7 linked regions of the Homo sapiens genome follow. The protein of the gene in region 5 purifies or fractionates together with the protein of the main gene of each other region. This does not show direct contact. Each region holds a gene or a part of one and is shown on either strand. Other genes may lie near its edges.

Region 1 (3,500 bases), on a different chromosome or scaffold from region 5:
GTGCTGAAAAGAGCATTCTAATAGTTTGGGAATAGCATGCTCAAAGATAGAAAAGAAAGACAATGTGTGTAATAATTAAGCATATGGTCATCAAGCCAGATCAATTCAGTCCACTACTTGTTCTCATACTAGAACACACCCACTCTCATTCATTTATTTACTGGCTATGGCTGCTTTCATCCTACAATGACAGAGTAGTTGCAATAGAAATGACATTGCACACAAAGCCTAAAATATTTACTATCTGGCCCTTTACAGAAAAGTTTGTCAGTCCCTGTTTAAGGCAAGACTGCCTGGCTCTTATCACTTCCTAGCCATGTAGACATGAGAAAGTTACTTAATCTCTCCGTGCCTCATATTCTTCATTTATAGAATGGGGATTTACAAAAATCTCTATCATAAAGTCATGAGAATTAAATATATGTATAGTGCTTAGAAAGTCCCTCTTAGGCAAATAGTAAGTCTATATAATTGTTTACTATAATTATCACCATTACTAAGTTTGAGGAACGAAAGTTGAGTGTTAGGTAAATATTAAGTCTATAGAATTGTTTATTATTTCATCAACATTAGCAAGTTTGAGAAACCAAAGATGACCAGTGCAAGAAAATAGAGGCTTGGGATACAGCTGGAGAGCTAAACATAGGCCAAATTATTTTTCTGTAGGCTGCATTAAAACATTTTGGAGTTTATTCTAACATGAATGAAAAGCCTTCAACAGGAGTTTTAATTTGGAGAGTATCATCAGCTGAGTAGCATATTTTCCCTGGGAAGCAAAAATGTGAGGTGACTACAATAATCTCTTTAAATCCATAACAAAATTTTTATTTAACACAGAAAAATTTTATAATTTGTTGTATATTTTTATGTACAGTATTGAAAGTTATACTTTCAACAACTTTGTGAAACTAGGTTAAGTCATCAAGTAAAATGAAGTGTCTTATTAAGATTACAGATAGGAAACAAAACTTACCAATACAAACTCCCATGCAAATTGTTCTTTAAAGAGGTTTCCAGAATTGGTGGGATTACCTTAGGTTAACCTTTCGGAAATAAGTGTCCTCTGGTCATTATTCTCAGTTCTACTATGTTAGGGTAACCATACAATTTATCATTTAATCTCGGAGACTTTTGAAAATTAAAGAGGGTACTATTAAAAGTTACCTCAAAATAATAGGCGTAGCCCTGCACTATTGAATATATTTTCCATGAATCTCTGTCAGACAGAAGATGGACAAGACACATCATGAGGCTGAACTGCTAAAAAGTCATCCTGGATGAGACATCCTGAAGGATTGCACAACACCAGTTTTGCAGTCTGAAGCCCATCAATGCACTAACAACAACAACAAACCAAAAATGACTAAAAGGGGATACATATGACTTAGTGACTATTGCTTATAAGGTTCAAACTTGCTTACCTCCATGGCATCTTCCAAATTCTCTTCTGCATCTGCTTTCTCTGTCATCAGTTTGGCTGCCTTAAAATACGTTTTCATAAGTAGATAACCCCTTTTTGCTCCATTCCAGTATGATCGAGGAATTTCCACCAAGCCATACCCCAACAACAACACAAGAAGAAACAGACCCCATGTATTTGCAGCAGCTATCCCAATTGTCTGAAGCTGGTTCCTAAGAAAGGGAAACAACAGATAATATGTATATTTTAATGGAAAGATAAAATGCGACTGCATAAATAGACTTTAACACAGGAGACACTGTTTCTACTGCAGTTAAAATTAGCATCTAGAATAATTCATGGCAATAATATGTATATATTTTCCCAAAGGAAACATTTTTCATTAGGTGATTTCTTATTCTATATTAAACAAAAGAAGTTTGAAAATGTTTCAAATTAACCTGTGTTGCTGACCTAGCAAATCTCAGGAATACAATAGTGAGACCTAGCACTGCTGATCTATTCCTAAATTTTCAGATGTAGACCTTCACATATATTACAAATCATAAGTATAAAACAGATTTCAATTTTATTGAAATATCTAAATCCAAGGTAACATTAAGAACAAATATGCCTTCAAATTATAATCAAAACAAAAAAAATCACAAGTTCCAATGAAAAATAAAACCAGTTATTTTATCATAAAAATTTTGAAATTCTATCCAAAAATCATAAGGGTTATTACTTTTAATATATAGCCATTAGACTAATCATTAATCTTTTGCCTAAAATCTATATTTAAAGATGTCATTCCATATTTTCTTAGTAATATGGATTATTCACATATTCTTTTGGGGAAATCCATAAAATATGTAACAATATATTTCTCAATGAAATGTCTTTTTACCTGCACATATGAAATTAAAAATGATTTTTTAAAAATGCAAACATACATTAAAGCAATGTTAAGAAGACTACTTTTCTTACCATTCTAAATGTAAATGTGGGTTTACAGCTACATAAATTAAAAATGCTCCAAAAATCAGCAAATAGGTGCCATAGTAGATTGCATTCTCAATTAGTGCAGTTTTGATCTTTCCAGTGATGGAAAACCCTCCTGATCTTGCATATGACTGCATAAAAGGTAAGAGAATCCTAGATGGATAGAAAAAATATGATTAAAAACCCAAATAATTGATATGTCTGTATAATCTCAAAGTGCCAGAAATATATGAATCTCAATTTTAATGAATAGGTCTTCTCATTAATAAATGTTTATAAGTAATCATGAATACTTAATAACTATAATAGATGACTGAGTATTTTTGTAATATAAAATTTTAGGGAAAGCAAATGGGTCTTTAAAGCCTTTATGAAGAGTCTGGACTACATTCAAAGAAAACATTTTTGATCAAATTTTAGTTTCCTAAGGCTTCACACGGAGAATGGATAAAAGGGGAACAAAATTGGAACTAGTTGGGAGGGGGAAGGGTGATGATGGTGGTAAGAAGCAAAAAGGGAGAAGGTCAGTTGACAGCATACTGACTTTGAAGTAGTACCTAGGAGACATCCAAGAGGAGCTGCACACAAACCCAGCTTCAGGGTTCAGGAGAGCGGACTAAAAATATGGATAGCTTCCGAAGTCATCACTGTATCAATGGCAGTGAAATAACATCAGTAGATACTCAACTGTAAGAATGAGTATGGAGAATGTGAAGGAAAGAACTGAGACAGAACTCTGAGAAATATCAACTTTTAAGAGAGGTAGAGAACAGAAGGAGGGTAGACCAGCAAAAGAGACTGAGACAGAACAATAGTGGGGCAAGGAAGAAAACCAAGGAGCATATGGATTAGGAACTAGGAGAGGAAAGTTAAAGTGGAGAGAGAGAATCAAATGCCGCCAAGAGGTGAAGTAAATTAAGAACCTGTATGTATAAGTGGAGGAGAATAGAAAGCAGAGTACTATGGTTAAGAAATAAGTAAACAATGAGCAAGTGGAGATATCAAATATAGAGAATTTATTTAAGAAGTTTGGCTGGGTAGGATAAACTATGGCATATACATATAATGGGGTATGTTACAGAAATGGAAAAGAACAGAA
Region 2 (3,500 bases), on a different chromosome or scaffold from region 5:
ACTAATGAAGGAATTTTGCTTTGCAAAATTTATTGATATCTAAATGTGATTTTATTTTTTTTCTCTTGAGATAGGGTCTCACTCTGTTACCTAGGCTGGAGTGCAGTGGCACAATCACAGCTCACTGCAGCCTCGACCTCCTGGACTCAGGTGATCCTCCCATCTCAGCCTCCCCAGTAGCTGGGACTATAGGCGTGCACCTCCACGCCTGGCTAATATTTTGTATTTTTTGTAGAGATGGTGTTTCACCATGTTGCCGAGGCTGGTCTGGAGCTTCTGGGCTCAAGTGATCTGCCCGCCTCAGCCTCCCCAAAGCACTGGGATTACAGGCACGCGCCACCGCACCCAGCCCCAGTTCACATTTATGTATAAATTCAGACCATCATAATTAAGATGAGCTATATCTGTTAGGACAATAATTCCTATGAGATAACATGACGACTTATTTGGCACAGAAAGTTTTTAAAGCACATCGTATGTATTTAGTTTGAAATATCCTGAAGTATTTCCAAAGCATCTTAGCTCTTGTTCACCACTCTTACATAATAGTGTCTGGTACTCATCCCATTGTGAAAAGAGATGAAGATGGACAGTTCTATGGATCAAAACAAAGCCACAGAACCAAAAAGCCAGAGTATTAGCATTCAGTGTTGTTAATATTAAGAAATGTATTCACTGTTTTCCTGAAAAATAGATGACAATTCATATGATTTTAGCAAATTTTAAGTTGGATGGAATAGTAACAACACATCCCCTGGTCTAGGCATTTTGGAGATGGGGACAACTAATTAAAATGTTTGCAGAGATGGTTCCTTTTCATTATTTCTCCCCTCAATTGAGTTGATAACCAACTTGCTTTCAGCACAATTAACTAAGACTTTACACCCAGAGTTCTTGTAGCAGTAGGAAAGTCACAAATAAGCTGAAGAAAACCTGCTCCAAAACCACTTGAATAAAAAGACAGACAACCAACCTCCTGTCCACAGTGGAAAACAGATTCCCCACTCACCTTCTGGGCGTTCAATGAATAGTCGCTTCAAGCTCTGGTAAGTGCCTATCTTGATGGTGCCATAGGATGCCTGGCGTAACATCGCGGGGGCAATCCTGTTAAACCAATGTACAAAGGGACAAAAGCAATCTAAAAATCACTTAACATCGGCTAGGCAACCCACATGCAGAGTGCCATCCATAATCAAACTACATTCTCTAAAACAATTTTTTTTTTTTGAGACGGAGTTTCGCTCTGTCACCCAGGCTGGAGTGCAATGGCTTGATCTCAGCTCACTGCAACCTCTGCCTCCCGGGTTCAAGCGATTCTTCTGCCTCAGCCTCCCGAGTAGCTGGGAATACGGGCACCCGCCACCACACCTGGCTAATTTTTGTATTTTTAGTAGAGACGGGGTTTCGCCATGTTGGTCAGGCTGGTCTTGAACTCCTGACCTCAGGCCTCGGCCTCCCAAAGTGCTGGGATTACAGGCATGAGCCACTGCACCCGGCCTCTAAAACGATTTCGTAAAATTCAAAATCCAACAAAAACACAGGTGGGTCCAGATGTGCAAATTATTAGCTCACTAAGTGAAAGCCTAGCCCCTCATATTTATTCTCAATGAAAATGTAAGTGAAGAAGTTCAAGACAGAATCAGGAAAAACAAGCCTACTTTCCTCCATCCGATATGCCTGTCCTATTATCCTCTCCAAACCACAACCACGTTGTGGCATGGACACTCCCCGGGTGTCTTTCTGCATTTCCCCACTTCCTTCTTGAATTGCAATCAGGGTTTCTGCTGCCCTCACCCTCAAAACTCCCCTCTTCAAGGTGACCAACTGACATCTTTGTTGCTAAGTTAAATGAGGCTTTTCAAGTAGGATCTTGTATAAGCTCTTTGCAGTGTGTGCCACTGTTTACCCTTTGTCCTACTTGTAGCTGTCTCCTCCCTGTTCTGCTGTAGCATCACCCCCTCTGACTTCTTTTCTTTTCTCTACAGCATCCTACCTGTGTCTGCTGGGGTTCCCCAGAAATCTATCCTATGCTTCTTCTCTCCTTACTGTACATGTTCCCTGTGTGAGCTCACCTACTCCCAAGGCTTCAACTGCCATCTAAAGGCTGGCCAGGCACGGTGGCTCATGCCTGTAATCCCAGCACTTTGGGAAGCCAGGGCAGGCAGATCACTGCACCTCAGGAGTTTGAGACCAGCCTGGACAACATGGCAAAACCCCATCTCTATAAAAAATATAAAAGTAGCGCCAGACACGGTGGCTCACACCTGTAATCCCAGCACTTTGGGAGGCCGAGACGGGTGGATCACTTGAGGTCAGGAGTTTAAGACCAGCCTAGACAACATGGTAAAACCCCGTCTCTACTAAAAATACAAAAAACTGGCCGGTTGTCATAGCTGGTGCCTGTAATCCCAGCTACTCGGGAGGCTGAGGCAGGAGAATTGCTTGAACCTGGGAGGCAGAGGTTGCAGTGAGCCTGGGCAACCGAGTGAAACGCCATCTAAAAAAAAAAATTGTGTGTGTGTGTTTGTGTGTGTGCAGCTAGGTGCAGTGGCTTGTTGTGCCTATAGTTCCAGCTATGTAGGGGGCTGCAATGAGAGGATCACTTGAGCCTGGGAGGTAGAGGCTGCTGTAAGCCATTTTGTGCCACTGCACTCCAGCCTGGGTGACAAAGCAAGACCCTGTCTCAAAATAAATAAATGAAAAATAAAATAAAAGACTGATGACTCCAAATCCATGCTTCCAACATGGATCCAAAGACACATTTCCAATCTTCCAAGATTCTCCATTTAGATGTCCTGTGTATACCTTCAGATAGGGTCCCACACTGAACTACTTCTCTTCCTTCTCCAAACAGTCATCTCTCCTCTTGTGTTTCCTAAACCAGGACATGGAAGCTCCAGCTACACACTGGCAAAAACCACCAATTGAGACATTAGTCTTGGCTCCTCCTTCCCTTCTACCCGCTTCATGTATGGAAACCTCATATTAGGTCACGTAGTGCTATCAGTCCTACACCCTAAATAGTTTTCTAGCCTGTCTTCTTTTTCCTCATCCCCAAAACCAATTCAGATCCTCATCTAGTCTTCCTACATGACAGCCCTGCTTCTAGTGCTCCCTGTCTCTTAATTCTTTCTCTCCATGGCAGGCAGGTGATGTTTACAATGTAAAGCTGATCAGGTCCATCCTCCTACTTAAACACTTTCAGTGGCTTCTGTCTGCCATAGATATAGCAAACTCAAATGCTGACAGGTACCAAGAAAGCAGATGCCATGAGTGAATGATCCAGGCTGGGTCGAACTGCACACACATATACTATGTGAGTGACAGAGGTTTTGTAAACCAGAGACAGTATCCTTCACCCCAGCTACTACTGTCATAACTGAATGAATGTGGGCCTAATGTTGATTTCTCTCAAGAAGATGGAGTCCCAGATTTTTATGTGCAATTTCTCATTTTTAAAATATTGGCTCAATTAAAAAAACAAAAACCTCTGGGGATTG
Region 3 (4,094 bases), on a different chromosome or scaffold from region 5:
ACTTCCATCTGTCAAAGCACCAGCTCACTTCTCAGCTGACCTAACCCACTTCCAATGCAGCTCTAACAGTGTCATGAAAGAAAAACAAAAATATTCCTCCTTCTCCTGTACCTATCAAAGATAATCTTAGCCCCTTCTTACATTTGCCAACAAACTAAAAATACCCTCTGCCCACAAAAAAAGGACAGGCATGGTGGGTCACACCTGTAATCCCAGCACTTTGGGAGGCTGAGGCAAGAGGATGACTGCTTGAAGCCAGGAGTCTGAGACCAACCAGGGCAACATGGCGAGACTCTTGTCTCCATGAAAAATAATTTTTAGCCGGGTGTGGTGGTGCGTGCCTGTAGTCCCAGCTACTCGGAAGCTGAGTGGGAGGACCTTGAGCCCTGGATGTCAAGGCTGCAGTGAGCAGTGAGACTGCACCACTGCACTCCAGCCTGGGTGTCAGAGTGAGACCTTCTCTGAAAGAAAGAAAGACGAGAAAGAGAGAATGAATGAAAGAAAGAAAGAAAAAGAAAGAAAGAGAAAGAAAGAAAGGAAAGAAAGGAAGGAAGGAAGGAAGGAAGGAAGGAAGGAAGGAAGGAAGAAAGAAAGAAAGAAAGAAAAAGAAAGAAAGAAAGGAAGGAAGGAAGGAAGGAAGGAAGGAAGGAAGGAAGGAAGGAAGAAAGAGAAAGCAAGCAAGCCTCTGGCTGACATTTAAACCTCAGGGCACTCACATTTCTTTGCTTCTAGAAATGATGGTTCCCACTTGAGCTTGCAAGCTCTTTTATTTAAGAAACTTGGAGGCCGGGCGCGGTGGCACGCCTGTAATCCCAGCGCTTTGGGAGGCCGAGGTGGGCAGATCACAAGGTCAAGAGATCGAGACCATCCTGGCCAACATGGTCTCTACTAAAAATACAAAAATTAGCTGGGTGTGGTGGTGCACGCCTGTAGTCCCAGCCACTCAGGAGGCTGAGGCAGGATAATTGCTTGAACCTGGGAGGCGGAGGCTGCAGTGAGCTGAGATCGCGCCACTGCACTCCAGCCTGGCGACAGAGCAAGACTCTGTCTCAAAAAAAAAAGAAAAAAAAAAAGAAAAAGAAACTTCGAAAGACTTATTACTCGCAAAGCTTTCCCCAACTCAGTTTATGTAAACTGAGAAACTGAGTTCATGGCAGAATTGTTCTCTAATTCTTGATTAATTCAGGGACGACTCAAACTCTGAGTGAATAACTAGATCATTCAATGAGCCGAACCAAGAGCTACAAGTAACAGCCCGTCCTGGCCACTCAGGACTCCTATTAAAACAGCACCCTGGCCATCTAAAGAGTTCACACAGGAGAGATGTCAGGGAAAATCTGAGGAAACTTTGACACCCATAATTTAAATAACAATACATCTTTCCAATGACCCATTGCAGCACACCTGAAAATTTCCCTGAAACTTCCCTGAAAACAGGGAAGACTTGGTATTTCTTAAATTCTGCAGTTCTCAAAAGGATAAAGGTCACTTCTCAGATACCCTGGTCACTCCATGCCCCATCCTATAACCATCCCCCTTTATATACAGGCAGGGGACAAAATAAAGGTCGGCAAACGCTCTGCCTTAGTTGAAAAGCAGGCTGTTGATAGCCCTGGGAGAGAAATGAAAGAAAAAGTAGCTGATGGCCCCATGTTTCTAAAACTCCAAGTTCTATCTAAACTTTGGAGTCGTCAAAAAGTATTTGAACCCTTTCCCAGAAGTGAGCAATACCCAGGGCAGATGAAACTGGTGAGTCCGCCCATTCTTTCTTCAACGTCTGTTAATAAGAGCTGGGACGGTGGCAGGGGACATCCCCCACAACATAGAAGGCTGGAACTGAATTCTCAGATCCCCTGATAGGTCACCCATCCTCCTCCGTGAACAGCGACACACTGGTTCGGTCGGTCCAAAAAGAGAGAACAGGCCTAAAGCCCCAAATCTGCAAGTCGGCGGCCGAATAGCTGTCCCAGTAGTGTGAAGCTAAGTACCCTACTAGAAAGCAGTCTCTGTCCAGCGGCGGATTGCCCCACCACACCGCTGAGCCCCCGGCCCGTATCTGGTCAATTTCCTCTTTTCATTTTCCGCTCACTCCTCCCCCACCAAGTAGGTTCTGATTTATTTCTCCATTCCGCAGAGCGTCCCCAGCTCCAGTCCTCAGTGGCATCCCTAAATCCTGCCAGGGGCTGGTACTGTGAAGTTTCTCCCTTTTCCCTCTGGCTGTGCGAAGCCCCCAACTCCCCAGGAGCGCCGCCGGCCCTCAGCCCGCGGCGGCGGTCCCCACCCCCGCACTCACCCCCTGAGGGTCCTTGACGAAGTAGCTTCCGCTGGAGCCCTGGTAGATGCGCTCGGGAAAGATGCAGCGCTCGATGGCCAGCTCGGCCTGCCGCACCACCGCCTCGAACTCAGGATCCTCCGGGAACTCGTTCCGCTCGCGGTGGGCCTGAGCGGCGTGGGCTGCCGCCGCGGCCTGAGCGGCCAGAGCCTGGGCCTGCGCCGCCACGGTTTGGGTCTGGCCCTGGGCCGCCGCGCCCCGGGCCCGATCCAACAGTGGCTGCCGCTCGCGGTCGTGGCCCGGCGAGCCCGGCGGAGAGGGGCCCGAGCCGGCCGCCGCCGCCACTCGGACCGCGCCCCCGGGCACCTGCGGAAAGTGAGCGCCCGAGCCCGACGGGAAGGTGTAGTCCGGGGGTTGGGCCCGCTCGGGGGACACTAGTGGGCTCGTCTCGTCCATCCCTCAGACAGCCGGCTCCGGGACCCGGCGCGCTCCACACCACTGCGCTCGCGGCCGCGACCAATCCGTGACATCCCCCAGGCCCCGGCCGGCCAACCAGGTCGCGACGCCTCCTTGGCCCCGCCTCTAACCTGCCCTGTTTACTTGGCTACGAATAGGCACGGCCCCTCGCGCGCGAACAGTAGCCAATCAGAACCTGCTCCTACGCAATCGCTGCCTCCGCATTTTTCTCCCCGTCACCTTCTGTGAAGACTGCGCATGCTCCAGGACCCAACCTTGGGTCAGGCACGCCCCCTGCCCCTACTATACCAGCGCCACGCTTAGCTTCCAATTGGCTTACTGGACTTGGGCGCTTTCAAAACAGCAACTATCCTGTCAGTCACTCATTGAGTGCCTACTCTGAACCGGCTGTGAGATTGGAGGAATCTCATCTATGTATCCTCATTCATTCAGTCAGGCACTCATTCATTTATTGAGCACGTACTATGTTCTAAGTGCTAGGGAGACAGCAGTGAAGCAAAGAAACAAAGCTGCTGCTCTACCTCGATGAAACGTTTTTTTTGGGGCGGGGGGTTTGTTTTTTGGGTTTGTTTTTTTTTTTTTTTTGAGACAGAGTGATCAGTCTCCAAAAAAAAAACGACAGAGGTCAAGTGATCTGCCCACCTCGACCTCCCAAAGTGCTGGGATTACAGGTGTGAGCCACTGCGCTTGGCCTGGAAGTAGGTTTTTAAAGGAAAAGAGGCAGTTCCTAACTTGTTTACCAAGAATTTACATTAAAATAACAAGTTATAGATTGGCTATACATTGTACTTTGTATCCCAAATTCGTATCTCAGTTGACCTAACATACTTCCAATGTAGATGTAACAATGTCAGGTTACACTTCAAGTTCGCAGGAACTTGAAGGTAATGGGTGAAGTAGCCAGTCAGGATAAAATGTCTTAACAATTGCCTCCAGGTTTTCCTAGGAAGCCCTGAAGATTTCTTTTTAAAATATTATTATTATTTTTTTAGAGTTAGGTTATCTCTATGTTGCCTGGGCTGGTCTTGAACTCCTGGCCTCAGGCGATCCTCCTCCCTCAGTCTCCCAGAGTGCTGGGGGATTACAGGTGTGAACCACCCACAGTGCAGCCAAAAAATAAAAAATTTTTAAAAGAAAAAAACCCGCCAGGCACAGTGGCTCACGCCTGTAATCCCAGCACTTTGGGAGGCTGAGGCAGGCGGATCACCTGAGGTCGGGAGTTCAAGACCAGCCTGACCAACATGAAGAAACCCTGTCTCTACTAAAAATACAAAATTAGCCGGGCATGGTGGCACATGCCTATAATCTCAGCTACTCGGGAAGCTGAGGCAGGAGAATCGCTTGA
Region 4 (4,129 bases), about 130 Mb from region 5:
CTGTAATCCCAGCACTTTGGTTGGCCGAGGTGGGCAGATCGTCTGAGCTCAGGAGTTCGAGATCACCCTGGGCAACATGGTGAAACCCCGTCTCTACTAAAATACAAAAAATTAGCCGAGTGTGGCGGCGCGTTCCTGTAGTCCCAGCTACTCGGGAGGCTGAGGCACAAGAATCGCTTGAGCCCTGGAGGCGAAGGTTGCAGTGAGCCAAGATCACGCCATTGCACTCTAGCTTGGGCTACAAAGTGAGACTCCGTCTCAAAAAAATAAAAATAAAAATAAAAATACAGTGAAAACATTGGATTTAGAAGGAGGACCTGAAATTTGAGTATTTAAAAAAGGAAAGATGGCACTCCAGGATGAAGGACATGAGCAAAGAAACATCAGAGTGGAAACATCTCTTCCACAGAATGAGTCCAGGATTGATGACGATTCTGGAATAGCAAAAGCATAAAATTTGTTAACATATGAGGATAGACAGTAGCATATACTTATTGTAGAGACCTTTGAGCTAACCGAGGGAAGTTACACTTCATTCTGGGAAGAAAGAAAAGTCCCTGAAAATATTAAAGGTAGGCGTGAAAGACACAACGTTTTGCTTCCTCTTAAAATATATCTGTACCAGCCGGGCGCGGTGGCTCACGCCTGTAATCCCAGCACTCTGGGAGGCCAAGGCGGGCGGATCACGAGGTCAGAAGTTCAAGACCAGCCTGGCCAATATGGTGAAACCCCGTCTCTACTAAAAATACAAAAATTAGCCGGGTGTGGTGGCGTGCGCCTGTAATCCCAGCTACTCAGGAGGCTGAGGCAGGAGAATCGCTTGAACCTGGGAGACGGAGGTTGCAGTGAGCCAAGATTGTGCCACTGCACTCCAGCCTGGGCAACAGAGCAAGACCCCGTCTCAAAAAAAAAAAAAGATGTATCTGTACCTATGAAAAAGGAGAAGCATAAAAAGAAAACAAAAGTCTCAAAACTGATGTATAACGATCTTTTTTATTTTATTTTAGCAACAGGTTCTCGCTCTGTCACACAGGCTGAGTGCAGCGGCGCGATCCTAGCTCACTGCAACCCTCGAACTCTCAGTTTGAGGCTGAAGCTCAAACGTTCCCCCCGCCTCAGCCTCCCAAGTAGGCGCGCGACTAGAGGCGCCACCAATTCCCGGTTGACATGATGTTTTAAAAATTTTTTCAAGATAATTATTGTTGTTTGCAAACTCGTGACAGCTTGGTAGTATGTTACTGAAGGATCAGGATCCAAAAATCACAGTACAGAGACAACGTAGACTTCCCATAGCGCTTGGCACACTTAAAACATCCCTTCAAGTATTAACCTTAACTGGGCTTGTCATCCCAGGTCAAATCCTCCGAAATAAGTAAACCACTCTAATTTCTTCTCTCCTAAGAGACTCTATCAGTGAAAGCTCACAAAAAAACAGTTTAAAAAAAAAAAAGGGGGGGTCTCGCCATGTTGCTCAGGCTGGTCTCAAACTCCTGGGTTCAAGCGATCCTCCCGCCTCAGCCTCTCAAAGTGCTGGGATTACAGACAGGAGCCACTGCGCCCAGCCAAAGACAGTTCTTAAAATCTACAGGTTCTTTAGGATATTCTGAGAATAAATATCGTTTAGGATTTCCCCAAAGGATTTACGTTTTGTTCTATGAAGAACCCAGTTCTTCCAAAAATTTCTACAACTGACGATTTGGAAATAAAAATAACGCTCATCTCATAAAACTTTGCACACAGATAGTATGAACCTCGTAAGCTTTGAGAACAAAATTTCCCCATCTCTCAAAACAAAACACCCAAACCAAAACAGTCAACCAGTGGCAAAAGAAACCGTCCTGTTTCCCAGGTAGGAAAAAGGAAGGCAAAGCACCCCAAGATGTGCTTTTATTTTAAATCTCCTTGATCTGACCAATCGGGTGAGCTGGAACCTCACGGCTGAGCCCCGAGTCCAACTTCTTCCCCGCCAGGACTACTCACTGTGGCCAGGCCCAAGCGCATGTGGAACACACGCCAACACAGGACAGGCTCAGCACGCCGGCCGCTTCCCTCGGGGAAAGGCCCGCCAACGAGTCCATCGCGTGGGAGAACAGTGGGAAAGGGTCGCGGCCCCGGCCGTCCGTAAAGGGACCCGACTGCCGGCGCAGGACGCGAACCACCAGCGCCGCTCCGCCGCCATGTGCCGCCGCTCCTCCGGTCCGAGATTATGTAACGAAGCCCGGCGCCCGCGAGCCTGCCGTACCCGCCACCGCCACCGCTCGCCCCCTCGAGCCCCATCCGTTGGCCCCGCGCACGCCCGGCCTAGGCCCGGCGCTCGCGGGGCAGAAGCCCCGCCGCCGCCGCCGCCGCCGCCGCCGCCGCCGCGGGTCCAGGCCGCGCGACCCGCCCTCCGCCGCGCGGGCCCAACCCCCTCCCTCCCTTCCCCCTACCTGAACGGGGCGGGTGAGCGCGCCGCCGCGGGCCGAGTCCACCGGGTCGCCAGGCCAGGCGCGAGCTCCTCCCGTGCGGGTCCGTCACAGCATCTCCCGGGAGACGTGGCCGCCACGGGCCGGGCTCACACCCCTCCGCCCGGCTGAAGCCGCTCCTCTGCGCTCCGGCCGCCGCCTGCGACCTCCCCGGCCACCTCAGAGCCACACGCCCCCGAGAGTGCCTTCGCGGGCTGTAGGCCTGCAGACCGCTCAGCGGCTAAAACGCAGTCGCTGCTCCCGCCGCGCTTCTGGGTCCTTCCCCTTGCAACGCTGCCTGCTCGCCTCGGACAGCGCCGGCCCCGCTCTGCGCATTACCCTGCGCCGACAAAACCGAGTTCCACACGCCCCGGAAGGGAGGGAGCAGAGGAAAGGGCGGAGAGGGAGGGGAGAACCGGCGGGAGATCGCGGCTGCAGGGACCAGAGTTCTCGCGATGGTTCCGCGCTCTAGCGCCGGCTCCGCGGGAATTTTCAAACTCTCGGTGAAAGAAGGAGGTGGGAGGGAAAGGGAGGAAAGAGAAGCAGGGCCTGGAAGGGCGGATCATTTACAAAAAAATCGGGTCTCTCCGCCTCCGAGGAGCTGGTGGGGAGAAAGACTACGAGTCCCACAGTGCCTTGCGCGTGAAGCCGCCCTGGCGGCCCCGGCGGCGCGCCCCGTGCGCAGTTGGGAGTGGTAGTCTTCGCTGGGGGTCGCGCCGGGCTCTGCCAGCCGCCTGCTGCGATTGCAGGCGGACTCTCTTGTCACGTAATCGTGTGGCCCTGCCAGCTGGGGGCCGAGTGATAATCTTTCTCCCATAATTGGCAGCTTGCATTCTGTATTTTCTGTTCTGTGCTCCCACTTTTCTTTTTTTCTTTTTCTTTTTTTTGGAGACGGAGTCTTGCTCTGTTGCCCAGGCTGGAGTGCTGTGGCACGATCTTGGCTCACTACAACCTGTGCTCCCGCTTTTCATGCCAAAGGTGGGCTCCCAGACTTCTGGGGAAACGCTTTTTCCACGGTGCTGTTTTTTCTAGCATCCTCCTGTGCTTTCATGGCCAAAAATGCTCGCGCAGCCTAGCCTAATCTTTTTAGTCAAAATTTTACCCCAAATCACTGTTATCTTTTTGGTCACCGCGGGTTTTCATTGTGGAATTTCTTATTTCTTGTTAGTATCTTCCTTTGAAGCAAATCCCAGCGCCAAACATGTTTCAAACAGATAGGGAACGTATCCTTAATACTAAGTAGTAAGTAAAAGGATTATAACATGAGGTAGAGTAGGGATTTTAAGAAGATGCTCTTTTATCAGGAAAGTTTCTACTTTTCTGTTACCTTTCATATGTGCTTTTTAAATTTTTTTATTTTTGAGACAGTGTCTCGCTCTGTCGCCCAGGCTGGAGTGCAGTGGTGTAATCAAGGCTCACAGCAGCCTCGAACTCGTGGGCTCAAATGATCCTCCTACCTCAGCCCTCCAAGTAGCTGGGACTATGGGCATGGACCACCATGCGCCACTACGTCCCATTAATTTTTTTATTTTATTTATTTATTTATTTATTTATTTATTTGAGACGGAGTCTCGCTCTGTCACCAGGCTGGAGTGCAGTGGCACAATCTCGGCTCACTGCAACCTCCGCCTCCCAGGTTCAAGAGGTTCTCCTGTCTCAGCCTCCAGAGTAGCTAGGACTACAGG
Region 5 (3,500 bases):
GCCAGCTCTTTCTCAGTCTTTTAGAGGATCATTCCAAACAATCCTTCTCCTTCCCTTATCCATGCAAGAAGCTTCATGGTTCTTTCTGCCTGTTAATTTAAAATTATTTTTCCTAGTAAGAGAGCAGAGTGTCTGCAATTGGCTAGTAATTTCCTAGCTGGTCCTATAACCTACTTTACCTGGCTACTGGCTATAAAACTAGGATGATGATTTTGTCCACTCTGGGACAATTTTGAGAGCAAATGTGGGTATGAACTTTTCAGCTGGGATTACAGAGTGCTGTATCCCTCTACCCAAAACCATTAATTATCATTCTCTCTCCCTCCCTCCCTCTCTCCTTCCTATCTTTTTTATGCCTGCACTCCCCATAAAGGTGTTCTTGGTTTCCTGACAGTACACGCTTAGTCAATTTCTATTTATATGATTGACCTGTTAATTGTTAATTAGTTAGTTGAGTTTAAATAAATGAGCAGCCTTTTCAGATCATAAAACCCTGGCAGTCTGTAGGAGATCTAAGGCATGAAAATCCATGAGAACTTTTAACTTAAAAATATTCAAATGCTCATTTCTATATCATCCTTTGTGGATCCACTGTCCAATATGGTAGTTACTGGCTTCATGTAGCTATTTAAGTGTAAATTAATTAAAATTAAATAAATTAAACATTCAGTTCTTCATCCTTCCTGGCTGCATTTCAAGCACTCAGTAGTGCTTGTGTCTAGTGGCTTCCACATTGGACTGGGTAATTATAGAACATTCCTAGCATCTCAGGAACATCTAGTAGGCAGCTCTAGAACCCACTGTTCTCTAGGATCCTGTGCTTCCACTTCAGGACATGTTATTCAAGGCCCGCTGCTGCCCCCCAAGGGTCTCTTAATTCCTCCGCTAGAACTTACTGATGTATTTTTACTTATGCTTTTCAGGAATGTTGGGCTTGGAACTTGTTCCATGTTCTCCCGAGTTGGTGGGATTATTGCTCCCTTCATCCCCTCACTGGTTGGTTTGTACCTTCTAGTTTTGTTTTTCTTGATTCTCTGCTTTGGAAATGCTTATGCTTTTTAGTAGAAAGAGGTGATGAACAGATGTCATTTAAGATCAGCTGACACAAATGTGAACCTTGGCCCTTTTAGATAGTATTCCGTCAGGGCAGATGGACTCTTATCGAGGATTCATTTGCCTCCAGTGGGTCTGATTTTTTGTTCATCTGGATTTGTTGGAGGGTCTGCTAATGCCAGTGTGCCCCATTCCTGTCCCCATGAAAAAGTTAGTCAACTAATAAGTATGTATGACACTTCTGCTGTGTGCTGGGCTCTATGCCAAGCACTTTCTACATATCATCACATGCAGTCCTCATAGTAACCATAAGAGGAAGGCATTGTTGTTACCCCTGTATTAAATATGAGACATGCTACAGAGAGGTTAAATACCTTCCCCCAAGAACACACCTCCTGGAAAATAACATTAGAGGAGAAATATGTCTCTCACTGTGTCTGTTAATATTTTTTTTTTGAAACTTTCTAACTTGTATAGTCAAAGAAAGGGAACCAGATTAAATGACAGCCCTAAAATCCTTCATCTTAAAATGCTCAGATTCTGTGAAAGAACCCAGGGGACCCCTACGCAAGTCTCTCCTTGGTTTGATTTGTGACTTTCCACAGCCAAGACTTTTTGAAAGCAACTAGATTTGATGTGGGACTTGTGGACCTGTTCTGTAGACAACTGTTCATTACTTAGGCAGGTCTCTGAAATGCCATTATAACCTTTTCATTTTCTGAGGTGCAGTACATTTCCCTTCTCAGAGTATCTCTCTCCATGTCTCATGATTAATTTTAGTTCACAAGACCCTTCTCCTAAAGGAGTCATGTAGGTCTGTGTTTTATTCTGCAAAATATAGGTACTGTTAGAGATATCTGACTTTGGATAGCTATCCTACAACATTATAATACCCAGCACTGTGTCTCTGTTGCTTCCTACAAGGTTAGAAGAAGGGAAAGTGTGTGTTCCCCTTGTTTCAACAACAGGCCCACAGTGCTGGACATATGTTTGAGTGTAGATGGCTAGAGATGAGAGATTCTCCTCCTCCCTCTTCCTCCTCATCCCTGTCTTCTGCTCGGTTCTCTCCATCTCTCCCTTCTCCTCCCCCTTCTCCCTTTTCCACCTCCTTCTCCATCATCTCTTCACTTTGAAAAATCAGGAAAAAATTGTCTGAGGGGAAATCCTAATTAGTAGTGGACCTACCCACGAAATTTGGAAGCCTAAACCAGAAGATCATAAAGCTTAGCAGGAATTCTAAAATGTTGATCAGCTCAGAAAAGCCCCAGAGAAACACCCTGGAAGCAACTGTTTTTCATGTTTTCTTTGAATCTCTTTGTGATGAAATGTTTCCGTTTTCCTGAGAATATGTTTTGGATCTCTGAAACAATTGCTTGTATCACCAGCCCTTAACCATGTTCAGTTTAGAAGTTTATAAGCCATATGTATGTCGTAGGGTTGGTTTTTTAAAAGAGTTTTTACACCTTTAATCCCTGGAACTCTCAGTTACGGTCTTAAGGTATATAGGATGGTTTGGCCAATTCCAGGATTAAGAACTTTAAAGTTCATCATCAGCAAGTATTTTGGGATGCCTCTGTGCAAAGTGTGCTCACCTGGAATGGAAGCTGAACTACAAGATGTCCTGTCAGCTCTGGCCATATAGGCCTGCCTGCTCAGAGGCAGCCTGGCCTCTTCTCCTACAGTACCCACCCCGGACATGAAATTGCTGCTTCTAATGTACAGACTAGTGCTGTCCTTTTATTTACTCACTCCCATCTCTACATGCCTGAGGAATCATTCTCTGATTTCCCAGGATAATTCTTTATGTGGAAAGAAGTGGCTTATAGTGTTGTCTAGTGCGAGGTCATGAACTAGGTGGTAAACATGACAGTTTTTCAGTCATGAGACTGCTTGTATTACATGCTAAGGAAACTAATTCTCTGGTTTATTTTCATTCCACTCCCCGCCTCTGCAGAAATATGTGCAATGGTCTTTACCATTCATTGTCTTCGGAGCCACGGGTCTGACCTCCGGCCTCCTGAGTTTGTTATTGCCGGAGACCCTTAACAGTCCGCTGCTAGAAACATTCTCCGACCTTCAGGTGTATTCGTATCGCAGGCTGGGAGAAGAAGCATTATCTTTACAGGCTTTGGACCCCCAACAGGTGTGATATTTTTCTTAATTATTATACCGCTTGGATAGTGGCAGTTAATGAAAAAAAGAAGGTTTGCGTTAAATTAAATAGAACTGAGTAAAACTGCTGGAAAACAAAAGTGGGATCTAACAGCAGCTGATTTTCAGAGAAATAAGGATGATCGATGATTCATTAGCTTTCCTAGAATATTTTAGGGGCTATTTCTTGGGGGAATGAATGTCATATAAATACATTTGTCAGTTGAATAGCTAGATGGTAGTTTCCATTTCAGAAATGTCATAACATCATTTCACTGCCCTTTTCTTCTTTCCTG
Region 6 (3,500 bases), on a different chromosome or scaffold from region 5:
TTCCTCTGATGAAGGATTGTGGCAATGCAATATTTCCCCCAAGTACTTTTTAGCTGGCTGGCCTTACAGAAATGCCCATTATTGGTCCGCATCATCAAAGGCTTGACACACTTGGATTACTTCCCTTTTTAGTCCCCAAAGTTCTTTGGCTTCTCACAATTTGATTTTTGGTCTTTTTTTCAGAAGTACCCACTTTAGTTTTCTATCCCCCAAGCATAAATGCAATGTTCAATGAGCCACTGGCGTGAAGTCCCTGAAGCCACACCTACCTGTAAAAATCGATCCATAATGCCAACGCACATGTACAGAGTCTCCTGCAGAAGCCTAAACTTGGAGTGGACTTGTACCAGCCAATCCACTAGGATGGCACGCATGCGTCCATTTATATCTCTTCCATCTAAGAAATGTGGGTTTATGGACTGCAAAACCTGTGGGTAGAATCAAAAGTTTAAAAAGCTGACCTTGTTTGCTTCCCAGCTGTGTGGTAAATTCCACATTGCTTATACAACCAAAACACAAAGGCCCACCTACCTCCAGCTGCCTGAGATACTGATAGATATCCTTAACGTAGTCACTGCAGAGCTGAGGGTTCTCCCAATCTTCGTTATCAATGTCCTCGATTTTGCAGAGCAAGGCATCAGAAAAAGCTTGGCAGAGATTCTCTTCCTTCATGGAGACATCCTCAGGTGTGGGAGAAGGACCCTACACCAACAAATTTAGGCACATGTAGGAGCAGCCTTAACCATAAATACATGCAGAGCCAACTGGCTTAAATATCAATATCATACGCACATCTGAAATATGTTAAAGACACAACAAATTTCATACCAAGAGGTGAATAATTCAAGATATAGTATGTGAAGTTCTTCAAGAGACACTTCTCTGTTTAAAACTCTCTAATTTCACTCAAACTGAAAACTTAAGTCCTCCCAATGGCCTACAGACCTTATATAATCTGGCCCTCCCCAGTTCCCTCGCTGACCCATCTCCTGCTTCTCTCCCTTGACTGCTTCACTCAAGCCAGGTTCTTCTTACCCAGAATGCTCTTGCCCCTATGTCCATATGGGTAATTCCCTTACTTCAAGTTTTACTTAAATGTTACATTCTCAATGGGGTCTATCCTAACTCCTATTTAAAATTATCAGGCCATGCACGGTGGCTCACGCCTGTAATTCTAGCACTTTGGGAGGCCAAGGCAGGTGGATGGCTTGAGCCCCGGAGTTCAAGACCAGCCTGGCCAATATGGCAAAACCCCATCTCTACTTTAAAAATACAAAAACTAGCTGGGCGTGATGGTGCGCCCCTGTAGTCCCAGCTACTCAGGAGGCTGAGGCAGAGGTTGCAATGAGCCAAGATCACGCCACTGCACTCCAGCCTGGGCTGGACGGAACAAGACTCCGCCTCAAAACCAACCAAATAAACAAAAAACAAAATTATCACCTGCCTCCAATCCCTGTCCTCCTACCCTACCCATATGTCTCATCTCATAAAACCTATACTTCTAAAATTCTATAGTTAATATGTGTATTATTCTGTTTTTTCTCATAAAGCCTATACTTCTAAATTCTATAGTTTATATGTGTATTATTCTGTTTTTTCTCATAATACCTATACTTCTAAAATTCTATAGTTTATATAGTATGTGTATTATTTTCTGTCTACCTCTGCCAGAATGTAAGCTCTAAAAGCTTACGTTTATTTAATTGGTTTTGCCCACTAAGGCACCTCAAACATCTATATAATCCCTGATACGTAGTAGGTGCTCAATAAATGGAAGAAACTTGACCACCTGGGTTCAAAGATTACTGGAGCTGATCATTCTACTTTAGTAGCAGCCTCTTCTGCAGTATAATGTTTTCTTCTCTTTAACTAATTTATTCTAAATTGAAAAACTGGCAACTAAAAAGGAGAAAAGCATATTGCAGTCTATAAATAAAATAGGAGAAGGGAGCGAAGACTGAGCAAGTTCACAACTCAGTATTTCACTTTCCTATGCTGACTGGGTAATTATTTATAAAAATTATGCAAATTAAAAATTTATAAAGCAGTTAAAACAAGTATTTATTAATGAAAGATAAAAAAATCTTTGCTTTTTTAAATGTTTTTTTTTTTGAGATGGAGTCTCGCTCTGTCGCCCAGGCTGGAGTGCAGTGGCACGACCTTGGCTCACTGCAAGCTCCGCCTCCCGGGTTCACGCCATTCTCCTGCCTCAGCTTCTGGAGTAGCTGGGACTACAGGCGCCTTCCACCACACTCGCCTAATTTTTTGTATTTTTAGTAGAGACGGGGTTTCACCGTGTTAGCCAGGATGGTCTCGATCTCCTGACCTTGTGATCCGCCCACCTCGGCCTCCCAAAGTGTTGGGATTACAGGCTTGAGCCACTGCACCCAGCCAAATCAATGCTTTCAAAAAAAAAGTACTTCTCCAAGTAAAACCTAACAAGATGCTAAGCTATACAAATATATATTAAGGTAATAAAATATTTTTTAAAAAGAGGAGGCGGCCAGGCCTGGTGGCTCACGCCTATAATCCCAGCACTTTGGGAGGCCAAGGTGGGTGGATCACGAGGTCAGAAGTTTGAAATCAGCCTAACCAACATGGTGAAACCCCATCTCTACTAAAAATACAAAAATTAGCTGGGCCTGTGGTGTCACACACCTGTAATCCCAGCTACTCAGGAGGCTGAGGCAGGAGAATCGTTTGAACCTGGGAGGCAGAGGTTGCAGTGAGCGGAGATCACACCACTGCACTCCAGCCTGGGTGACAGAGCGAGACTCTGTCTCAAAAAAAAAAAGACAATTTTAATTTACAGTAAAGCTCAATGATTATAATTTCCAGTCTTCGAGGATGCATCAATAACAACAATAACAAAACAAAAAAACAGTTTAAAACATGTCCTCCCCTCTTAAATCAAAGGTCTTAAACTGAGGAAGAACCAGGTGAGCAAGAACTATGCAGGCATGCATGCCATTTATACAAGAATTTGAGAACCCAGGCCAAGTGCGGTGGCTCACACCTGTAATCCCAGCATTTTGGAAGGCTGAGGCAGGTGGATTGCTTCAGCTCAGGAGTTTGAGGCCAGCTTGGGAAACATGGCAAAACCTCGCCTCTACAAAAAATACAAAAATTAGCCAGGCATGGTGGCGCACACTTGTTGTCCCAACTACTTGGAGGCTGAAATGGGAGAATCACCTGAGCCCAGGAGATCAAAACTGCAGTGACCCATGATTATGCCACTGTACTCCAGCCTAGAGACAGAGTGAGACTCTGTCAAAAAAAAAAAAAAAAAGAAAGAAAGAAAGAAAAGAATAGAATAGAATTTGGGAACCTGGAAACCTCAAGGAGCTAGAACAAATGAGTAGAGGTACCCAGGGTACCAGAGACGGTAAGACCTTAAGGAAGATGAACAGGCAAAAGCAAACCAAAGAAAATCAAGGCAATTCTGGGAACTGCAAATTGATTTGAGATGTCAGCAGGATAGCCTGTGAGGTATGAGAAGA
Region 7 (3,500 bases), about 46 Mb from region 5:
TGGCTCATGCCTGTAATCCTAGCACTTCGGGAGGTCAAGGCAGGTGGATCACTTGAGGTGAGGGGTTCAAGACCAGCCTGGCCTATATGGTGAAACCCCATCTCTACTAAAAATACAAAAATTAGCCAGGCGTAGTGGCTCGCACCTGTAATCCTAGCCACTCAGGAAGCTGAGGCAGGAGAATCACCTGAACCCAGGAGGCAGAGATTGCAGTGACCTGAGATCACACCACTGCACTCCATGACCCAAGATCACACCACTGCACTCCAGCCTGGGAAACAGAGCGACTCTATGTCTCAAGAAAACAAAACAAAACAAAAACCTCATAAATTAAAAAAAAATTTTTTTTCAATTGCTAATGAAAACCTAACAGGACTATGGAGCAAAAAGACAATAAGTGAAAGACTAATATGAATAATAAGATGTTAATAACATTGAGAGGGTCTCATTCAAGAAATGTGGTTTTACATATAATTAGTGTAAGATGTTAATGAGCCATATATTAGAGTTGTTAAAATCAAGGATTGCTAAGACACAAAATTGAGTTAGAATCCCAGCTCCAATACCTGGTAGTTGTGTGAATTTGGGCAAGTTACTTTCTATTATGTCAACTTAACTCACTTGCAAAATGGGAATTGGGCCACTAACTCATAGTTAAAAATTAATGGAGATAACGTATATAAAAAACTTAGTGCAGGTCAGGTGTGGTGCCTCATGCCTATAATCCTGGCACTTTGGGAGGCCAAGGCAGGTTGATCCCTTGAGCTCAGGAGTTTGAGACTAGCCTGGGCAGCATGGCAAAACCCCATCTCTACAAAAAATACAAAAAAAAAAAGTAGCCAGGCATGGTGGCACACATCTGTGGTCCCAGCTACTTGAAGGGCCAAGGTGGGAGGATTCCTTGAGCCCAGGACATGGAGGCTGCAGTGAGCCGAGATCATGCCACTGCACTCCGGCCTACAGGACAGAACATGACTCTGTCTCAAAAGAAATTAAAAAAGAGAGAGAGAGAGGGAAGCAGTAAATGGAGGAAAAGCTTTTTCTCTACCCTCCGTTTTCTGCCGAACTACAGAGTATAAATTTTGCTTCACTGGAGATAACTCTATACTCTTACTAGCCCAGTGACAGCACCAGAGGAATTTGCAAACAAACCTTACTCCTTTCCTGTCCTTGGAAACCTAAAATCACTTTCATTTGTCCTGTCATTTCTCTATAAATTTATTGTTCTTTGTTGAAGATGCTATATAAGTAGAGTTCTAAGCCACTATTTTGAGCTACTTTTTTTTTTTTTTTTTTTTTTTGAGACATAGTCTTGCTCTGTTACCCAGGCTGGAGTGCAGTGGCACAATCTCGGTTCACTGCAACCTCCGCCTCCCAGGTTCAAGCAATATTTCTGCCTCAGCCTCCTGAGTTGGGATTACAGGTGTGCATCATCAAGCCCAGCTAATTTTTGTATTTTTAATAGAGATGGGGTTTCACCATGTTGGCTGGGCTGGTCTCAAACTCCTGGCCTCAAGTGATCTGCCCAACTCAGCCTCCCAAAGTGCTGGGATTACAGGCATAAGCCACTGTGATCAGCCCTTGAGTTACTTTTCCTTGGGGTTTCTTGTGTGGTGTGCGGCACGCATTAATAAACTTGTTTGCTTTTCCCTTATAAATCTGTCTTTTGGTACGAGAGTCCATCTCAACTAAGAACTAAGTTTGGAAGAGGTAAAGTTTAGTTTCCCTTATGGTATAATGGAGGCCAAAAGAAAAGACTGTTTCAATATCACACTACAGAGACTTTGAAGAGAAAGAAGCCTGAAAAAGCCATAAATTTTGTTGGTTAGAAGTCATTGATGATCTCTGAGTAGCAGCCGAGGGATGTGGAAAGAAAGGAAACAGAGTTTTTTAGTATCAGGCAAGATGAAAGACAATGTTCTTTCCTTGAGAAGCTTATCAAGAGACACAAAAAGTAAATACTTATAATTGAGGGTGACAGGGGCTATGATATAATTGAGGGTGACAGGGGCTACAGAATGATATAAACATGCACAGAAGAGGTTTATGACAGACTAGGGTAGCCAAAAGACGTGGACTGGTTGACTCCTGAATTGAGGAGTCTAAAAAAGAACAAAAGAACTGGTTGAAGGAACTGGGGAAAGCAGAATGGTGAGAGAAAGCATGACATACTGGGAAATTGCAAGTGTAGTGTGTCTAGTTGTATGAGTAGTATACATGAAGATTAGTAGTAAGAGAAAAGTGGCCAGACACAGAAGAGAAAAAGTAGCCTGAAAGGGTTTTACATATGAAGTAGATCACATTTTACTCAGGAAGCAATGGACAAATATTTTGAGCAATACAATATAGTAGCTAAAACACCAACTGTGGAGCCAGAGTGATCCAATTCTGGCTTCGACAATGACTAGCTGACTTCAAACAAATTACTCAACCTCTTTTGCCTCAGTTCTGTCAACTATATAACCTCAGAGGGTTTACTGTGATGATAAAAATGGGCTGTTAAATGTAAAGTGCTTAAAATAGTGCCTCACGCATAGCAAGTACTGTATACATTTTAGTTACTGAGCATAGCCATTACATGATTCAATCTATTTCAGGGTGATTACTCTGGTGGCAGTGTATTTAGGAAGCTATCTCAGTAATCCAAATGAGAAATGATAAGGGCATGTTGTTTAAAAATGGAAGGACAGAAAATAGACTAAATAGACTCAAGAGATCCTTAGGATTTTGTGATTGATCAGATATAGAGATAACAGGAAAGCTAAGAAGTCTAAGAAGAAATTTCAGGTTGCCAGCTGGGGTAAATAAGGAGATAATGGTGTTACTACCTAAGACAGAGAAAAGAGGAAGGAGGGAAGAAAGCATTATCTGATTTAGACACACTAAATTTTAGACATCTATGTTTATCCAAGTAGAGGTAGGCAAAAGCACTATAGATGTGGTGATATGACGGAAGAATAGAGTTAAAGGTATATATCTGGTTGACAGTTACCAGTGTTTATGTACTCACTGATGAGATGTCAGAGATTGCTAGTTGTCTCCCCAGTATCTGTTCTCCCATTAGTCTTTGTGAAAGAACCTCTCTTCCAAATTTTTGGATGAGCACATGACTTCCTAGAATAGACTCCTTTTCTAGAAATCCTTGCAGCTAGGTGTTATCATGTGACTAAATTCTTTTTTTTTTTTTTTTTTTTTTTTGAGACAGGGTCTTGCTCTGTCACCTACACTGGAGTGCAGTAACTCAATCACACCAAACTGCAGCCATGACCTCCTGGACTCAAGTGATCCTCCCACCCCAGCCTCCTGAGGAGCTGGGACTACAGATGCATGCCACCATGTTCAGCTTGTTTTTACTTTTTTTTTGTAGAGACAGAGTCTCACTATGTTGCCCAGGCTGGTCTTGAACTCCTGAGCTCAAGCAATCCTCCCACCTTGGCCTCCCAAAGTGCTGGGATTACAGGCATGAGTCACCATGCCCGGGTTAAATTCTAACCAATGGA

Evidence for each region.
Region 1: the proteins of SLC22A15 (region 5) and LMBRD2 purify together in Homo sapiens (affinity purification with mass spectrometry; one large-scale study listed by BioGRID and IntAct). This does not show direct contact.
Region 2: the proteins of SLC22A15 (region 5) and SLC25A30 purify together in Homo sapiens (affinity purification with mass spectrometry; one large-scale study listed by BioGRID and IntAct). This does not show direct contact.
Region 3: the proteins of SLC22A15 (region 5) and PI4K2A purify together in Homo sapiens (affinity purification with mass spectrometry; one large-scale study listed by BioGRID and IntAct). This does not show direct contact.
Region 4: the proteins of SLC22A15 (region 5) and AHCTF1 purify together in Homo sapiens (affinity purification with mass spectrometry; one large-scale study listed by BioGRID and IntAct). This does not show direct contact.
Region 6: the proteins of SLC22A15 (region 5) and CCNB2 purify together in Homo sapiens (affinity purification with mass spectrometry; one large-scale study listed by BioGRID and IntAct). This does not show direct contact.
Region 7: the proteins of SLC22A15 (region 5) and ANKRD13C purify together in Homo sapiens (affinity purification with mass spectrometry; one large-scale study listed by BioGRID and IntAct). This does not show direct contact.

Annotation. Positions count from the first base shown.
Region 1 is NC_000005.10:36,134,888-36,138,387, forward strand, and holds part of LMBRD2 (G-protein coupled receptor-associated protein LMBRD2), read right to left. Parts: intron 2,555-3,500; coding exon 2,387-2,554; intron 1,633-2,386; coding exon 1,422-1,632; intron 1,337-1,421; exon of another isoform or gene 1,249-1,336; coding exon of another isoform or gene 1,165-1,248; intron 1-1,164. UniProt on the Homo sapiens protein: Recruited to ligand-activated beta-2 adrenergic receptor/ADRB2, it negatively regulates the adrenergic receptor signaling pathway. May also regulate other G-protein coupled receptors including type-1 angiotensin II receptor/AGTR1.
Region 2 is NC_000013.11:45,404,874-45,408,373, forward strand, and holds part of SLC25A30 (kidney mitochondrial carrier protein 1), read right to left. Parts: intron 1,105-3,500; coding exon 1,010-1,104; intron 1-1,009. UniProt on the Homo sapiens protein: Antiporter that transports inorganic anions (sulfate, sulfite, thiosulfate and phosphate) and, to a lesser extent, a variety of dicarboxylates (e.g. malonate, malate and citramalate) and, even more so, aspartate.
Region 3 is NC_000010.11:97,639,377-97,643,470, reverse strand, and holds the start of PI4K2A (phosphatidylinositol 4-kinase type 2-alpha), read right to left. Parts: upstream 2,801-4,094; 5' UTR 2,729-2,800; coding exon 2,294-2,728; intron 1-2,293. UniProt on the Homo sapiens protein: Membrane-bound phosphatidylinositol-4 kinase (PI4-kinase) that catalyzes the phosphorylation of phosphatidylinositol (PI) to phosphatidylinositol 4-phosphate (PI4P), a lipid that plays important roles in endocytosis, Golgi function, protein sorting and membrane trafficking and is required for prolonged survival of neurons.
Region 4 is NC_000001.11:246,929,149-246,933,277, forward strand, and holds the start of AHCTF1 (protein ELYS), read right to left. Parts: upstream 2,801-4,129; 5' UTR 2,430-2,800; intron 2,211-2,429; exon of another isoform or gene 2,180-2,210; coding exon of another isoform or gene 2,160-2,179; exon of another isoform or gene 2,079-2,159; coding exon of another isoform or gene 1,981-2,078; intron 1-1,980. UniProt on the Homo sapiens protein: Required for the assembly of a functional nuclear pore complex (NPC) on the surface of chromosomes as nuclei form at the end of mitosis. May initiate NPC assembly by binding to chromatin and recruiting the Nup107-160 subcomplex of the NPC.
Region 5 is NC_000001.11:116,063,513-116,067,012, forward strand, and holds part of SLC22A15 (solute carrier family 22 member 15), read left to right. Parts: intron 1-923; coding exon 924-996; coding exon of another isoform or gene 997-1,000; intron 1,001-3,007; coding exon 3,008-3,196; intron 3,197-3,500. UniProt on the Homo sapiens protein: Organic zwitterion/cation transporter with apparent specificity for amino acids and their derivatives. Has low affinity for its substrates and may regulate their flux across the plasma membrane at high substrate concentrations.
Region 6 is NC_000015.10:59,111,646-59,115,145, reverse strand, and holds part of CCNB2 (G2/mitotic-specific cyclin-B2), read right to left. Parts: intron 703-3,500; coding exon 532-702; intron 429-531; coding exon 270-428; intron 1-269. UniProt on the Homo sapiens protein: Essential for the control of the cell cycle at the G2/M (mitosis) transition.
Region 7 is NC_000001.11:70,278,223-70,281,722, forward strand, and holds part of ANKRD13C (ankyrin repeat domain-containing protein 13C), read right to left. Parts: intron 1-3,500. UniProt on the Homo sapiens protein: Acts as a molecular chaperone for G protein-coupled receptors, regulating their biogenesis and exit from the ER.